2 separate regions of the Homo sapiens genome follow, and region 2 is linked to region 1. Evidence: fine-mapped expression QTL. A gene starts in region 1. The other region holds a variant in brackets. All regions are shown on one strand. Distances are from middle to middle. Region 1 holds the start of PRSS8 (serine protease 8). Region 2 has its middle 9.7 kb from the start of PRSS36.

Region 1 (2,905 bases):
TCGGCTCACTGCAACCTCCACCTCCTGGGTTCAAGCGATTCTCCTGCCTCAGCCTCCTGAGTAGCTGGAATTACAGGTGCGTGCTACCACGCCTGGCTAATTTTTGTATTTTTAGTAGAAATGGGGTTTCACCATGTTGTTCAGGATGGTCTCAAACTCCTGACCTCGTGATTCGTGTGCCTTGGCCTCCCAAAGTGCCGAGATTAGAGGCGTGAGCCACCACACCCAGCCTCAACAGGTGTTTTGAACGGCCAGAGTGGCCCTCAAGGAGGATACATGCCTCACTCCCACCGCAGCCACACGGCAAGCCTTCTTTCCCTGAGCCTCTGCCCTCTGCACCCCATCCCCCCATCTTCGCCTTACCACCTTTTATAATCCCTTTCGGTCTCAGTTTCCAAGGCAATTCCTCGAGGACCCTTTCACAATGCCAGCCTTTGCCAGGCTGTGGTGTGCTCACGCCATTCTTTTTCATCACTATTCCTAGCTTGAAATTATTGTGTAATTGCAATTTTTTTTTTTAAGACAGGGTCTCCCTCTGTTGCCCAGGCTGGAGTGCAGTGGCGTGATCATAGCTCAATGCTTCGTTGAACTCCTGGGCTCAAGCAATCCTCCTGCCTCAGCCTCCCAAATAGCTGGAACCATAGGCATGCGCCACAATGCCTGCCTAATTTTTATATTTCTTTGTAGAGATGAGGCCTCGCTATATTCCCCAGGCTGGTCTGGAACTCCTGGCTTCAAGTGATGCTCCAGCCTCAGCCTCCCAAAGCCGACTAGCCACCTTGCCAGCCTGTTTGTGATTATTTGATTGAAGTGTGTCACCCCTACTTCACCATGAGCTCAGGGCTCAAGGGGGACGGGGCTGGTGCCTGTTTTGTCCTGGACACCTGGGAACATCATAGGCACTTAGGAAATGTCTGTGGGATGATTGGTGCTGCTCCACAAGCTCGCCACCACCCATGAGGTGCAGGCATCGCAGAAAGGGCCTGGCAGGGGACAGACCATAGTGTCTTAAGCTCCCATAACCAGCCTAAGGAGGGAGGGAAGAAGGGAGGAGTGGCTGTGGCTCCAGATAATAAAAGCTGGGGCCAGGCCCTGGGGGGCATAACTGGCCTGAGATAACCTGAAAGACCTGAGGCGGAGGAGAGTCGTCACATTCCAGGGAGACTGCACACACACACAAACCACATGCACGTGCATGCACGCACACTCAGACACACACACTACACACACAGGGACACACACAGCCTACACATGTGCACATACAGCCTGTACATGCACACACACACACATACCACACCACATAAGAGGACACACACAGCCTACACAGGCATACACACACACCACATACACACTACACACCGGGACACACACACAAAAGGCCTATGCATGTGCACACACATACACACGGACACATACATGCACACACACGGGCCTGCAGCTCTGAAAGGACTCATGACTTTGGTGGCAAGAGGAGCTGGCGGAGCCCAGCCAGTGGGCGGGGCCAGGGGAGGGGCGGGCAGGTAGGTGCAGCCACTCCTGGGAGGACCCTGCGTGGCCAGACGGTGCTGGTGACTCGTCCACACTGCTCGCTTCGGATACTCCAGGCGTCTCCCGTTGCGGCCGCTCCCTGCCTTAGAGGCCAGCCTTGGACACTTGCTGCCCCTTTCCAGCCCGGATTCTGGGATCCTTCCCTCTGAGCCAACATCTGGGTCCTGCCTTCGACACCACCCCAAGGCTTCCTACCTTGCGTGCCTGGAGTCTGCCCCAGGGGCCCTTGTCCTGGGCCATGGCCCAGAAGGGGGTCCTGGGGCCTGGGCAGCTGGGGGCTGTGGCCATTCTGCTCTATCTTGGATTACTCCGGTCGGGGACAGGTAAGTGAGGACGTGGGGGCAGGGTGGGGACAATGCACTGGAGGGAGCCGGCGTGATCATTTTCTGGGGTGTGCCCTTGTCTGGGGCCCAAGAAAACCCCCGGCCTCCCTAGCTCTTGGCCTCTCTTTCCCACCTTGGCTCTGTCAGGGAAGGGGCCAGCCCTCTGGAGCAGTGGTGGGTACTAAGGGGTCAGGGAACCCGAGTCTTCCCTACTCACCCCTCCTCTTTCTCTTTCTTTCTAGGAGCGGAAGGGGCAGAAGGTGAGACTTTCCTCGGAGAGGGAGGAGGGGAGGGGGAGGTGACTTGGATCGGATTCCCCTGGGGTTTAACCAGTGCCTGGCCTTCAGCTGGGCTGCCTTCCAACTAGATTCTCTTAGGGCTCCCAGAGTGGGGGGTTTTAGCCCTCACCTTATGGGCAGAGAAGCAGGGACTTGCCCAGGGCACACTGCCAGTGAAGGTGCAGCTGGGATTCAGATCCACGTCTGACTCCCAAAGTGGGGCAATCGAGGTGGTTTTTTTGGTTTGGTTTTTGTCTTTTGAAACAGGGTCTGGGTCTGTCGTCACCCAGGCTGGAGTGCAGTGGCCCGATCGCAGCTCACTGCAGTCTCAGTGATCCAGCCTCCCGGGCTCACGTGATCCTCCCACCTCCCCACCTCAGCCTCCCTAGTGGCTGGGACTACAGGTGCATGCCATCACACCCAGCTAGTTGTGTTTTGTTTTTGTTTTTGTTTTTGTTTGGTAGAGATGTGGGTCTCACTATGTTGGCCGGGCAGGTCTTGAACTCCTGGGCTCAAGCGATCCTCCTGCCTTGGCCTCTCAAAGTGCTGGGATTACAGGTGTGAGCCACCGTTCCCATCCTGGAGGTGGTTTTGAGGGAACCAAACCAAGGGTCTCCTTTCTTGGAAGGCACCCAACCCAGCTCTGAGTCAGACCGGCTTTCAATCCTGGCTTCCCCATGCACTGGCTGTGTGTCATTGGCCAAGTCCCCCCACTTCTCTAAGCCTTAGACTCCTCACCTCTAAAATGAAGCTGGT
Region 2 (2,905 bases), 24 kb before region 1:
GACCTCAGGCAATCCACCCGCCTCGGCCTCCCAAAGTGCTGGGATTACAGGCGTGAGCCACCACTCCCTGCTAATTTTTTGTACTTTTTTTTAAGTAGAGACAGGGTTTCACCATATTGGCCAGTCTGGTTTCAAACTCCTGACCTCAGATGATCACCCACCTCAGCCTCCCAAACTGTTGGGATTACAGGCGTGAGCCACCACGCCTGTCCGTGTCCCTGTGTGTTTGATTAAACTAATCTCAATGGGTTTTCATTATCTAAACAGCTTCCCCTCTCATACGCATTCTCGTTTCAGATGTTCAGAATTCAGAAAATACAAACAACCTGCAGGAGAAATGGCTGCTCAGCTTGAGTACCTGAGGTCCTGCAACACCCCACCTCCTTTGTTTTCCAGAGGGGTTCAGAAAGCTCGCTGTGCTCAGGCCTCCAAGTCAGGGCCATAAGCCTTGTTGCCTCCAGCCATGACTCAAAAACCTCGCCCTCACCCCCATCCCATCCTGACCTCCTCTCTTGCCCCCAAGAGCTCTCCCGGACCCCATACAGTTTATGCAGGAGCACCCCAAAACTGCTCCCCTCAGAAGCAGGAGGACGTCTCTCTCCCAGCAATGAGCTGCCACCTCCTCAGACTCCAACTCGGATTGTTCTCTCTGTGTCTCAGGAACCACCCTCCAAATTGCATACAATGGCCAGGCACGGTGGCTCATGCCTGTCATCCCAGCACTTTGGGAGGCTGAGGCAGGTGGATAACCTGAGCTCAATAGTTCAAGACCAGCCTGGCCAACATAGTGAAACCCCGTCTCTACTAAAAATACAAAAATTAGGGCCAGGCACGGTGGCTCACACCTGTAATCCCAGCGCTTTGGGAGGCCAAGGTGGGCGGATCACCTGAGGTTGGGAGTTCGAGACCAACCTGGCCAACATGGAGAACCCCTGTCTCTGCTAAAAAATACAAAATTAGCTGGGCGTGGTGGCACATGCCTGTAATCCCAGCTACTCGGGAGGCTGGGGCAAGAATCACTTGAACCCGGGAGGCAGAGGTTGCGGTGAGCTGAGATCATGCCATTGCACTCCAGCCTGGGCGACACAGCGAGACTCCATCTCAAAAAAAAAAAAAAATTCTATACAGTGCATCTCACAAAGTGAGGTCCCTTTGAAGTAGGGCAACTCATTTGAGGCTAAAGCGCTGAGTCCTGGGGCAATCTCTGGCTCCGACAGGCTCAGGGTACCAGCATGGTCCCTGGAGACCAAGAGGTGGGTGGGGAGGTGGGGGCAGAGTCTGGGAGTGAAATTGAAGGAGCAGTTACTCTTCTTGCCACGAGAGG[G/A]AGCACCAAGGGGATGTCTTGATCATATCAGTCAAGCGTGGAGTCAACACACAACATGTTCCCAATTTTATCAAGTCTCTCAAATATTCCCACTCAGAGGGTCCCTCATAGAATAACATTCTAACTCCAAGTTTTTTCTGAGAACAAGTTATTTCTGGCCAGGCGAAGTGGCTCATGTTTGTAATCCCAACACTTTGGGAGGCCAAGGCGGGCAGATCTCCTGAGGTCAGGAGTTCAAGACCAGCCTGGCCAACAGGGTGAAACCCCGTCTCTAAAATACAAAATTGTAAAATACAATTTTGTATTTAAAATACAATACTCTATCGTATTTAAAATACTCCAGAATACAAAATTGTAAAAATACAAAATTAGCTGGGAGTGGTGGTATACACCTGTAATCCCAGCTACTGGGGAGGCTGAGGCAGGAAAATCACTTGAACCCAGGAGGTGGAGGTTGCAGTGAGCCAAGATCGTGCCATTGCACTCTAGCCTGGGCAACAAGAGCAAAACTCCGTCTCAAAAAAAAAAAAAGTTATTTCTTCCAAGCAGATATGCAACAATATAGTGACTTAGCAAGATAATATTATGGAATAGGGAACAGGGTTGCCAGGTTTAGCAAAAAATTTTATTTTACTCCTTTTTTATTTTACAAAAAAATTTTGTACAAACGGGGTCTATGTTACGTTGCCCAGGCTGGTCTCGAACTCCTAGACTCAAGTAATCCTCACACCTCAGCCTCCTGAAGTGCTGGGATTATAGGCATGAGCCACCACTCCCAACCAGATTTAGCAAATAAAATAAGTGCCCGATTAAATCTGAATTTCAGGTAAACACAAATAATTTTTTTTTAAGACAGGGTCTTGCTCTGTCACCCAGGCTGGAATGCAATGGTGCAATCATAGCTCACTGCAGTTTCGAACTCCTGGTCTCAAGTGATCCTCCTGCCTCAGCCTCCCAGACCACTGGGATTACAGACGTGAGCCCTGTGCCTATTGGAAACACAAATAATTTTTTTTTGAGATAGGGTCTGGTTCTGTTGCCCAGGCAGGAGTGCAGTGGCATGGCTCACTGCAACCTCTGCCTCCTGGGCTCAAGCCATCCTCCCACCTCAGCCTCCCAAGTAGCTCCCAAGTGCACACCACCACATCCAGCTATTTTTTTTTTTTTTTGAGACGGAGTCTCGCTCTGTCACCCAGGCTGGAATGCAGGGGCGCTATCTCAGCTCACTGCAAGCTCTGCCTCCTGGGTTCGCGACATTCTCCTGCCTCAGCCTCCCGAGTAACTGGGACTACAGGTGCCCGCCACCATGCCCGGCTAATTTTTTTGTATTTTCTTTTTAGCAGAGACGGGGTTTCACTGTGTTAGCCAGGATGGTCTCAATCTCCTGACCTCGTGATCCGCCCGCCTCAGCCTCCCAAAGTGCTGGGACCACAGGCTTGAGCCACCACGCCTGGCCCACATCCAGCTAATTTTTTAAAAAACTCTTTGTAGAGATGGGGTCTCACTATATTGCCCAGGCTGATCTTAAACTCCTGAGCTCAAGCAGTCCACCTGCCTCAGCCTCCCAAAGTGCTGGGATTA

Evidence for each region. PIP is the estimated chance that this variant, and not a neighbour inherited with it, causes the effect.
Region 2: its variant is fine-mapped to the expression of PRSS8 in nasal epithelium (TOPMed, PIP 0.92).

What each region holds. Positions count from the first base shown.
Region 1 is chr16:31,134,380-31,137,284 of GRCh38, reverse strand. It overlaps PRSS8 (serine protease 8), which reads left to right and starts at 1,558. Exons shown (of 6, transcript NM_002773.5): 1 at 1,558-1,871; 2 at 2,114-2,131. The coding sequence starts at 1,787. RefSeq lists an enhancer at 2,497-2,905.
Region 2 is chr16:31,158,273-31,161,177 of GRCh38, reverse strand. No RefSeq gene overlaps it. Among named protein-coding and RNA genes, the nearest start is that of PRSS36, 9.7 kb to the right of the region's middle. The variant G/A (reference allele first, on the strand shown) is at 1,325.